3 linked regions of the Homo sapiens genome follow. The protein of the gene in region 2 interacts with the protein of the main gene of each other region in a pairwise test. Each region holds a gene or a part of one and is shown on either strand. Other genes may lie near its edges.

Region 1 (3,677 bases), on a different chromosome or scaffold from region 2:
CTTTAGGAATGGGCTGGTTCCTTCAGGAGACACTCATAATGTACCTAGAAAAGATAACTAGAAAAGTTAATTCCAAATCAGCCTTTAATATAAAAGATAAACAATTGATGCCTCCTTTGATAAGAGTTAATAGCGATAAATAAAGTAAGCTGGTTTATGAGATCATAGGATGCCCACAGAATGAGTAGGCACTTGCCCAGATTATCTCCTTATACTGATTCCTACCAAACGTTCTTCATTCTTTTTTTTTTTTTTTAAAAGAACTTTGCCCATTTTCCCAGAGGAGATCCTGCCTCTGTCTTGTTATTTCATTACTTCCTTCTCTGTTCTAATATTGACTTTACTTTTTGGAATGTCTCACCTATACTCACCAACAGGTGCTCTAGGAACTGGCAACCTGTTAATCAGGCTCTAAATCCATGTTAAATGAAACTGGTATCTTTTGTGACTTATCTTTCCTCGCCTAGTCCCTTGAGCCACTCCCAGCTCACTCGCCCCCAAACCTGTCTCTCATCCTTAATTCCTGAATTCTTAGTCTTGGACTTCTGTTATAGTTCACATTCACAGTTGTGGGCAATTTGATTAAGAAGCAGTTCTGAAGTTGACTGCCAAAGTATCCTCCAATTCTTAAAAATTAGTTATTCTGAAAACACTATCTATCATGAACACTTTGGACCTTTGGAAAGAACTTTCTTTCTTTCTTTCTCTTTTTTTTCTTCTTTCCCTCCCTCCCTTCTTCCTTTCCCATTTTCTTTTGCACTGGGCAGTGGCCCTAGGGAGAACTTATCTTCAAAGGCAGATTGGTGGTTGGGGGTGGGATAAGAAGCAGGAGTCCCACAGGCTGACTAGCCTTTTTGCAATTGGGCCACTGTCCTGCACACATTTTTCTCTTTGTCATACCATGCTGTATTATGGGGATATGGCAACCTGACTACATTCACAACTTTTCTGGTCTTATGGTTCCTTAACTTTGCCTAGGTTTTTCTTCCTGTCTCCAGTGACAGAGAGAAATCACCCCTGGGGTTCCCAAAGGTGCATCCCCGTCATCATCTTCACTCACTGCATCTTGAAGCATATGGATGAAACCCAGCAGGCTTATCGCATAGCTTGTGGTCTGCCCTGGGGAGCCAAGGACCAAGAGCCAGAGAGATGAGAATCAAGATAAAAATAGGTGAACTACCACCTACCAAGTAGATGACTACATAGGAATGGATGTGTGGGCAAGTGGAGCCGTCTGTGTGTGTGTGTGTGTGTGTGTGTGTGTGTGTGTGTGTGTGTATTGAAGACAAGGGCAGGGGTTCCAGACCTCCCTGCATTTGAGCCCCATGCCCTCTCTTAGCATACACACAGCCTCCCAGGTACAAACAGTGCCCTGTTTGGAAAGTAAACATGCCATAGCAATCCTGGCACCTCTGTGAAGTGACTTAGATGCCCACATGCACCACCTACAATGCTACCTGAGTGATGAATGTCTCTGGGATGTGAGTGTCAGCTGAGCACGTCTGTTGGGAAATGGGCCCCTCCCAAGAGCCTGAACCTGAATACTTCTTATAAAAAGGTTCTCTGGCTGGACGCTGCTCAATCCACTGCCTAGCAGGTGGCCCATTCCAGTTGGAGAACGTAGTGAGTCTTTCAGTGGAGCCAGGGTCTGGTAAGTCTCCTAGCAGGGTCTGGGGGAGAGGGTGGGATGAGTTGAGGGCACAGGGGAGGAGCAAACAGAACACAGGCAGCAGATAGATGTGGAAGGGGTGTCCCGCAAGGCACCTACGCTTCTAGTGAGCCAACCTCTTAAGGTACTAATGAGGACATAAAGGCAACATAGGAGGTGGTTTTTGCAAGGGTACACAGCAAGTCCGCAGAAGAGCTGTGACTAGAACCCAGGTCTTTCAGCTCCCTGGATGGGGTTATTTATATTGGCACAACTCTCCTTTCCCACATGGTTGTGGGGCATGAGAGGCGTAGGCAAGAAAGAATGATCAGGACATGCTTCTGGCCTGTGGATTATTTAGACCCAGCAGGTGGGACCGCCTGTTGGACTTGGGTGTTTTCTAACTGATGGGGGTGTAGTAACTAGGAAGATACAGTCGAAGGTCGGTAGGAAAGTAAAATGAGGGACAAGAAAAAAGCCAAGTGGAGATTTTGGACTGGATCATACAGATAAGTTGCCGCAGTGTGCTGTTTATTTTCCACTGTGGAGAACTTGAGCAGTCTTCTTCTAGTCAGAGAAAATGGAAATGCATTGATTCATTGCATGGATTGTGTCCTGCTCTGAGCATGTTTAACTCACTGGAAACACCTGCTTGGATTTGCTTCTTTGCGTCCGCTCTTTCTGGGTGCTTTTCCCTCCTTGTCCCAGGCCAGGCTGACTTGTACACTAAGCCGAATCTCAAAAGCCCAGACAGAGTTCCATTGGTGGAAAGAAAAAGCCGGCTCGCCTTTGAAAGGCTGCCTTTCTTCCAGGTTTGTCGTGAGGAGCTCCGCGATGTCCTCTCAACAGAGCGCCGTTTCCGCCAAAGGCTTTTCCAAGGGGTCGTCCCAGGGCCCCGCTCCGTGTCCCGCCCCGGCGCCCACCCCGGCGCCCGCCTCCTCCTCCTCCTGCTGCGGCTCCGGCAGGGGCTGCTGCGGCGACTCAGGCTGCTGCGGCTCCAGCTCCACCAGTTGCTGCTGCTTCCCAAGGAGACGCCGCCGACAGCGGAGTAGTGGTTGCTGCTGCTGCGGGGGCGGCAGCCAGAGGTCCCAGCGCTCCAACAACCGGAGCTCAGGATGCTGCTCCGGCTGCTGAGAGGCCCGCAACCCCCAGCGCTGCGCTAGAGAAACCCGCCCAGCCCAGAGCGGGCCCGCCCCGCTGCGGCTCCCACGCGGGGCTGGGCCTCGGAGTTTGCCCCGTAAAGCGAATTGCACTTTGATGTTCAGAAACCCACTTTGTTCTCAGCCACGCAAAACTCCCTGACCCCGATGTGATTTTTCTCCCCGGGGATTCGAGAGCCATGCGTGGGACACTGGACCCTACTGTCTACACGGGCTTGCACACAGCAGGTGCTCAGCAAATGTCTATTGATTTGATTGTCTTTTGAAGATGTCATAATAAAGCTTCTACCTCCTGAGAACACCTTTTATTTGTTCTTCATTCGTTTCTCCACCCAGGTAGAAAGGCTTGAAATGTTTGTGAAAGGCAGAATACTATAATTCATGCCTGAACAAGAAGGTGGCTTTCTGATAGTTAATTATGATAGCAGCGATCACATATCGACTGTTTCGAGTATTTTAAGGATTTTATGCGACAAAGTCCTTGAATATTCTCAGGACTTTATGTGGCACAATCTGATTCTCATAATGACTTGCGTAGGAGAGTGCAATTATACCCATTTTACAGAAGAGAAACTGAGGTTAAGTAATTTGTTCAAAGTCACCCAGCTGGCGCATGATAAAGAAGACAGGACATCTGATTCAAGGGCTTCATTGCTCTGCTGAGTTCTCACCTGGGCTTCCCAAGCCTTACCACTGAGGTGCTCCTCCCGACCACCAGGTCCAGGCAGCTGTGTGGTAAAAGTTTGTTTTGGCAACTCTTTGGGGCTTTGGAATCAAGCCAGCTGTCTTCTTTTTTTTTTTTTTTAGTTTTATGTCTTATTTTATTTTTTATTTTTGGCATGGAAGTTCATTGACCTACTGCTTTGCTT
Region 2 (3,650 bases):
AGTAAGTACTCAAATATCTGTGTAATGAGGCCAAGCACGGTGGCTCACGCCTGTAATCACACCACTATGGGAGGCCGAGGCAGGTGGATCACCTGAGGTTAGGAGTTCGAGACCAGGCTGACCAACATGGTGAAACCCCGTCTCTACTGACAATACAAAAATTGACTAGGTGTGGTGGCACATGCCTGTAGTCCCAGCTACTTGGGAGGCTGAGGCAGAAGAATCACTTGAACCCAGGAGGCAGAGGTTGCAGTGAGCTAAGATCATGCCACTGCACTCCAGCCTGGGCAACAGAGTGAGACTCTGTCTCAAAAAAAAAAAAAAAAAAACTGTGTAATGAATGAAGATATACAGTCCTCTTTATCTGAAGTTCATGATTTCTTTTTTTTTTTTTTTTTTTTTTTTTGAGATGGAGTTTCGCTTTTGTTGCCCAGGCTGGAATGCAGTGGCGCAATCTCGGCTCACTGCAACCTCTGCTTCCCAGGTTCAAGAGATTCTCCTGCCTCAGCCTCCTGAGTAGTTGAGATTACAGGTACCCGCCACCACGCCCGCCTAATTTTTGTGTTTTCAGTAGAGACAGGTTTCACCGTGTTGGCCAGGCTGGTCTCAAACTCCTGACCTCAGGTGATCCACCCGCCTCAGCCTCCCAAAGTGTTGGGATTACAGGTGTGAGCCACCGCGCCCAGCCTGAGCTCATGATTTCTAAAAGTAGATTTTTTTTCTCCAGGAAAAGTGAGCTATATCTTACTTTCTAATACCAAGTCAGAATTTTTTTTTTTTTTTTTGAGATGGAGTCTTGCTCTTGTCACCCAGACTGGAGTGCAATGGCACAACCTTGGCTCACTGCAACCTCCGCCTCCCGGGTTCAAGCGATTCTCCTGCCTCAGCCTCCCAAGTAGCTGGGAATACAGGCATGCACCACCACGTCCAGCTAATTTTTGTATTTTTAGTAGAGACGGGGTTTTGCCACGTTGGCCAGCCGGGTCTTGACCTACTGACCTCGTGATCTTTCTGCCTCAGCCTCCTAAAGTGATGGATTACAGGTGTGAGCCACCGCACCCAGCCCCGAATTTTTTTTACATAAAATGTTTGCCAGTCATATACTAATGTGGGCACATACTAATTATTCCACAAAAACTATCATTACATCATTTGCATGAGGCTGTAGTTATATTTATCATATAGCACTGACAGTCATCCACTAAAGATGTAGACCATTGTTCTTAACTTAATGCTATCATTAGAGATATGAAAATCCATCTGGAGAAAAATTTAGAAGAAGAGCGCCAGATATTACTGCAGCAACAAAAAATATGTCGAAATCGAGCACGTAAATATTTTGTGGAGTCAAATCGGAGAAAAAAGTAAGTAATTGCACTTTATTCAGAAGTATAGAAATTCAAAGTCAATATAAAGTAATAGTTTCTCTACTTTGTAGCACTTTATGAAACTAAGTCATGGCAGTGTTATCTGTGAAACATTGATCAAGATTTGTGTGGCTTTGTAAATTTTATTATTGTTTTCCTTCCCAAAGCACAAGGGTGGTGGTGTATTATCTAGGTCTCTGACAGTAGCAGTCTTTTTTTGTCATAGAACAGCTTATTGCATTGTCATATACACTTCTTAAAATGACTATGAAATGTATTATCTTCTTTTTTTGTATCATTTCATGATTTCATGATGATTTTAAAATTACCAATTAATATTTAGTCTTTTGGTATATAGTTTGAGTTTAATTTGTTATTCACTTCTATATAATTTTTCTATATCTGCCACTTTTCATTCGTTCAATCTGAAAAATTGGAAAAAATATGAATAATGGTATAAAAATTGGAAAAATATGAATAATGGTAGCAATATGAATAACAGTAGAAGTGGTAGAAATGTTTTATAAGTGAATGCTAGAAAAAGGAGCTTTCTAGGGTAAACTAGAAACTATAGTAAAGAAAAAGTACAAATTGTTCAATCACTGCTTAACATTTTTCAGGATGTTTTTTAAATATTAGGCTTTTTTTGAGACAGAGCAGTTATGCCATTTTTTAATTGTTGTTTTTGCTACCTTGTCCATATTTCTACAATATATGAATAGCAGAAAATCCCTAGACTTTATTAACTACATCACTGGGCATATGTTAACAAATCCCATTTGGGGAATAAAAAATTGTTTACCTGTAATTTTTGCCTGGCATTATGTTTCTCTTCAGATTAACTTTTTTATTGTCTGATGTAGTTGAAATTATTTACTGAAATTTAGAATTTTATTTTGTATGCATAGGTTTCTGCTTTTCTCCTACCTTTGGGCTCCTGGCATCTATAAACGGCGTGTGACAGGTGTTCAGTAAAGATGAATAATCATATGTTGAAAGAGTAATGGACTTTGGAGTCAGAGATCTAGGAAATACTAGCTCTATGAATTAAAGGATGTCTGTTTAATGTCTTTAAGCCTCAGTTTTCTCATTTATGATTGGAATTAATTACATCTATTTCAAGGGATTTTGGTGTAGAGCAGAAAGGGTAGAAATAAAGTGGAATATTTGAGAATACATGTAAAAATATCAGTGTCTGACACATAGGACTTCTTATTTTTTATTATTAATGTTTATCAGTTGTTTATTTTACAATAATCAACTTTAATAGCAAGCCTTTATGGAATTTTATTAATAAATTTTCTATTTGTATTCTCTCATCAAATGTAAGAATTCTTATGTAGAAAATAACAGAAAAGAAATCTTGGTTTAAAATTCTAAGAGGCAGGACATTTTCCAATACAATATTATTGTGTTTTATTTTCCGTTACCCTAAAGTGCAATGTAAAGATACATAAACATTTCTTTTAAAACACTAATCATTTGTCTCTGTATTTCACCTTTTATAAGGGGGCTGAATTATTTGTGCACATCCGAATTTCAGAAGCTGTCTATGATTATGGTCTTCTTAACCATGCCATTGTCTATCAATTTATACTTTACATCATTTAAGTTTATGCTGTCCACTTACATTGTGGTCACAGAGGATTTTTTTGTTTTGTTGTTGTTTTGGGGCTGTGTGTGTGTGTGTGTGTGGTTTTTTGTTTTGTTTTGTTTTTTTGAGATGGAGTCTCACTCTGTCACTCAGGCTGGAGTACAGGGGCACAATCTCAGCTCACTGCAACCTCCGCCTCCCAGATTCAAACGATTCCCCTGCCTCAACCCCCCGAATAGCTGGGATTACAGGCACGCACCCCCGTGCCCGGCTAATTTTTTTGTGTTTTTCATAGAGACAAGGTTTCGCCATGTTGGCCAGGCTGGTCTTGAACTCCTGACCTCAAGTGATCCTCCCATCTCAGCCTCCCAAAGTGCTGGGATTATAGGTGGTTTTGGGTTTTTTTTTTAAATAGTATTTTCTTCAGGTAGAGACAGTCTCCTGCCATTTGTCAGTTATACATTGACATTGTCAGTGTTATGTGTCCAGCAGAAGTCAAAGGAAAATGTTCCTAGCATCAAGTTCTCTTTATTTTCATTAGTTGCTTTAAATCACACACATTTTTATTTTCTTATTATTTATTGCATTTCTATTAGCCAATATTTTTCTTGCATTGTATGCTTTTATCACATCCTCAAGTTTTCCATTCTCTCAGTCAGTATCTATACAATGGAGTCCCCTTTGTTTCC
Region 3 (3,650 bases), on a different chromosome or scaffold from region 2:
TTACTTTTTTTTTTTTTTGAGACGGAGTTTTGCTCTGTTGCCCAGGCTGGAGCGCACTGGCGCAATCTCGGCTCACTGCAACCTCTGCCTCCTGGGTTCAAGCGATTCTCCTGCCTCAGCCTCCCGAGTAGCTGGGATTAGAGGCACCTGCCACCACTCCTGGCTAATGTTTTGTATTTTTAATAGAGACAGGGTTTCACCATGTTGGCCAGGCTGGTCTTGAACTCCTGACCTCGTGATCCGCCCGCCTCGGCCTCCTAAAGTGCTGGGGTTACAGGCGTGAGCCACCGCGCCCAGCCAATTCATTGCATTTTTATTATTCCACCTCTTGCTCCCATAAGCTTGAGAGACAGAAATAAGGAAAGAGGTCAAGAGACAGAAACAGAACAGTGACAGAGGGAAGCGGCTGAGAGAGAAAAGACAGAGACACAGGATTGGTAAGAGGCAGCCCCAGGGGAGGGCCAAGCTGTGCTCTCTTGGCCTGGCCTCTGCTTCAGGGCTAGAGCCTGATGTCCACACAGCCACCCCTTTCCACCAAGGAGGCTGGGGAGGCAGCCGGGGACTGTGAAAGGCAGAGGGGAGTTGGGAGCATGCAGTGAGCGATTCACTTTGTGCAAAGAAAGGTCTGGCTCTTGCCTGGCTCCTGGTAGTCTAAGCCCCTAGAATATCCCGCCTGATAACAGTGTCTCTGTTCCAGCCTGGGCAACATGGCGAGACCCTATCTCTACAAAAAATAACAAAAATAGGTGGCACGTGCCCGCAGTCCCAGCCACTTGGGAGGCTAACGTGGGAGGCTCACCTGAGTCCCGGAGGTTGAGGCTGCAGTGAGCCACGATTGTGCCACTGCGCTCCAGCCTGGGTGAGAGAGTGAGACTCTGTCTCAAAAAAAAAAAAAAAAAAGGTGTTTGTGTACCTGGGACTTTGAACCACACCAGGTAGTTGACACTAACATGGTTTATGGTAGGGCCCTGGGCCATGCAGTATCAGTTTGACCTCTGGGGGTTGCTGAGGGGCCTGGGGATGATGGAGTCACTAAGGCCAGTCACAGGGTGCTCCATGCCTATAGGACTGACACCCAAGAAAAACCCTGGACCCCAAAGCTTGGGTGAGAGCCTCTGGTTGGCAATGCTGCATGTGTGCAGGCACGCATCAAAACTGGGAGGAAGGAGGGCCAGCCTGGCAACTCTACTGGGAGAGCACAACTGGAAGACACGCCTGGTCCCTCCTATACCCTGCCCTGTGCACCTCTTTCTTTTGCTGAGTTTAATCTGTGTCCTTTTGCTGTATTAAATCATAACCATGAGAACCAGCTTTTCTGCTCTCTGAGTACTTCTAGTGAATCACTGAACCTAAGTGGTCTTTGGGACCCCCAGAACTGCGGGTGGGTGGGTGTGTGCAAAGGCCCCACCCACTGAGAATTCATCCAAGCCTTCCACCCAGAGCCCTGTGAAAAGTGGCGCAGTGCCCAGCCAGAGAGGGAGCTCCCCGTGGCTAGAGGTAACCAAGCAGAGCAGCACAACTACTGGCCTGGAATGGGCCAAGACTCAAGTCCCAGGGGAGAAGGCTGGACAGGAAGACCCTTCCGAGGCCCTCATATGCCAGGAGCTGGGGCACTGACCCCAGCTTGGCAATCTCGGAAACTCAGGCCCTCTGTGGTTTCAAAGAATCTGTTTTTCTGTTCAAGCAGCAGAGCTGCCGTGGGTAGGCAGACCGGGACGCTGCCGTGGGGACGGTGAATGGCTTCCCTCCCCACGTCCCTTGGCCTCTGTGTGAGCGTCGCCTATTGAGAGGGGTGAGTCCCGCCCAGCCCCATCACTCCCCGACAGTCCGCACCTCCTGCTTTATCCGGCTGCAAAGCTCGTAGCGCCACTTGTGTCCTAAACACGTTTACACAGACCTGTCAGTGTCCCCACTGGGCTGCAAGATGACAGGGACAGGAGCTCTCATCCATTTTGTTCCCCTCTGTATCCCCAGGGCACAGAGTGAGCCCTGACCACAGTGTGTGCTCAGTAGGCATTTGCTGAGTGAAGGAATGGACCAATTGCTCAAGCCACATTGGCATCCTCTCTCTAGAAGGCCAGTGAGTTGGGGTGCCCAGTCCTCTGGATACAGGTCCCCCACATGGAGCCCTGGTCTCCTACACAGGGGGCCCACCTGCCCCCAGTTGCCTTCCAGGGGCCCGAGTGCCCACCTGTGAGATCTCCAGGCACGGCAACTTGCCCACCTGGGCGCCAGTGAAGCCGTATACGGAGTTGGCGCTCACCTTCAGCGCCAGCTGCCGTCCATCCAGGACCTGGCGCCGGAGGGGGTCTGTCTCCTTGGCCAGCTCGGCCTTGGCCCTGCGAGGGAACACGGGGAAAGCACACTCAGGCGGCACCTGGGCATTGGTCAGGGCTCCTTTCTGGAAGTGAGTGCCATGTACGGTTGGGCGTACTGTGCACTGCACAGAAGCTTCTGGCCAAGGGGGCAAAAGGAAGCTGCCAGGAGGGGATGCCTTGTGCTAATTCACGCACAGCTGAGGGCAGGGTGGCTGGGCAGCCCTGGGGTGTCCCAGTGAGGGACAGGGATTGCCCAGAGGCCCCAACAGGTCTGAGCTCCAAGCAGGCGATCTCCAGGGCTCACCTCTTCCGGGCACTGAGCAGGTTCTCCAGGATCTGGGGCAGCAGCCCCTTCCGCACTGAGGTCTTCACAAACTCGTCCCCGGTGGGGGTCCTGATGAACTGATCCTCAGTCAGGCTGGGTTGGAAGATGTTGGGGTGACTGCCGGCCACCCTCCTGCTCCAGCCCACCTCTGCCCTACGGTCCTGGCCTTGGCCATGAGCACACGCAGGCCCCTCAAGCACCCCTCCACTCCCTACTATCTCTGGGCCTGTGCCTATGCCCCCCACCAGACTGAGCCCCCCAAGGGAAGGCCCAGATGGGCCTCGGGGGACACATGCTGAATTGGGCACTATACCCCAGTTTCTGTGCAGTCCCGGGCCGAAGGAGCGTGGTGTAACACAGGTTGTGGGCCATCATGATGGACGGGTACAGCGAGGAGAAGTCCAGGGTGGCGATGGGGACGTCGTAGTACCTGGGAGGGGAGCAGCCGCGGCCGGGAGTCAGGGCTAGGAGTTCCCATGCCGCCCCCGCCCTGTCTTGTGGCCTCACCCTTTAAAAAAAAAAAATCATTCATTGGCTGGGAGCAGTGCTCGCTCCTGCAATCCCAGCACATTGGGAGGCTGAGGCAGGAGGATCGCTTGAACTCAGGAGTTTCAGATCAGCCTGGGCAACATGGCAAAACCCTATCTCTACAAAAAAATTTTAAAAATTAGCCAGGTGTGGTGGTGCACGCCTGTGGTCCCAGCTACTCAGGGGCCTGAGGCAGGAGGATTGCTTGAGCCTAGGAGGTGGAGTAAGCCAAGATCATGCCACCGCACTCCACCCTGGGTGACAGAGTGAGACCCTGTGTCAAAAAAAGAAAAAGAAAAAGAAAAATAATATATATAATTAATCTACTATTTTATTTTATTTTATTTTTTTTGAGACGGAGTCTCGCTTTGTCACCCAGGCTGGAGTGCAGTGGCGCAATCTCAGCTCACTGCAACCTCCACCTCCCGGGTTCAAGCGATTCTTCTGCCTCAGCCTCCCGAGTAGCTGGCACTGCAGGC

The links.
Region 1: the proteins of CEP126 (region 2) and CRCT1 interact in a two-hybrid assay, tested with the Homo sapiens proteins (one large-scale study listed by BioGRID and IntAct).
Region 3: the proteins of CEP126 (region 2) and POLD1 interact in a two-hybrid assay, tested with the Homo sapiens proteins (one large-scale study listed by BioGRID and IntAct).

The regions. Positions count from the first base shown.
Region 1 is NC_000001.11:152,512,902-152,516,578, forward strand, and holds CRCT1 (cysteine-rich C-terminal protein 1), read left to right. Parts: upstream 1-1,580; 5' UTR 1,581-1,651; intron 1,652-2,356; exon of another isoform or gene 2,357-2,460; 5' UTR 2,461-2,482; coding exon 2,483-2,782; 3' UTR 2,783-3,107; downstream 3,108-3,677.
Region 2 is NC_000011.10:101,921,397-101,925,046, forward strand, and holds part of CEP126 (centrosomal protein of 126 kDa), read left to right. Parts: intron 1-1,244; coding exon 1,245-1,364; intron 1,365-3,650. UniProt on the Homo sapiens protein: Participates in cytokinesis. Necessary for microtubules and mitotic spindle organization. Involved in primary cilium formation.
Region 3 is NC_000019.10:50,408,208-50,411,857, reverse strand, and holds part of POLD1 (DNA polymerase delta catalytic subunit), read right to left. Parts: intron 3,152-3,650; coding exon of another isoform or gene 3,074-3,151; coding exon 2,957-3,073; intron 2,737-2,956; coding exon 2,623-2,736; intron 2,340-2,622; coding exon 2,192-2,339; intron 1,918-2,191; exon of another isoform or gene 1,834-1,917; intron 1-1,833. UniProt on the Homo sapiens protein: As the catalytic component of the trimeric (Pol-delta3 complex) and tetrameric DNA polymerase delta complexes (Pol-delta4 complex), plays a crucial role in high fidelity genome replication, including in lagging strand synthesis, and repair.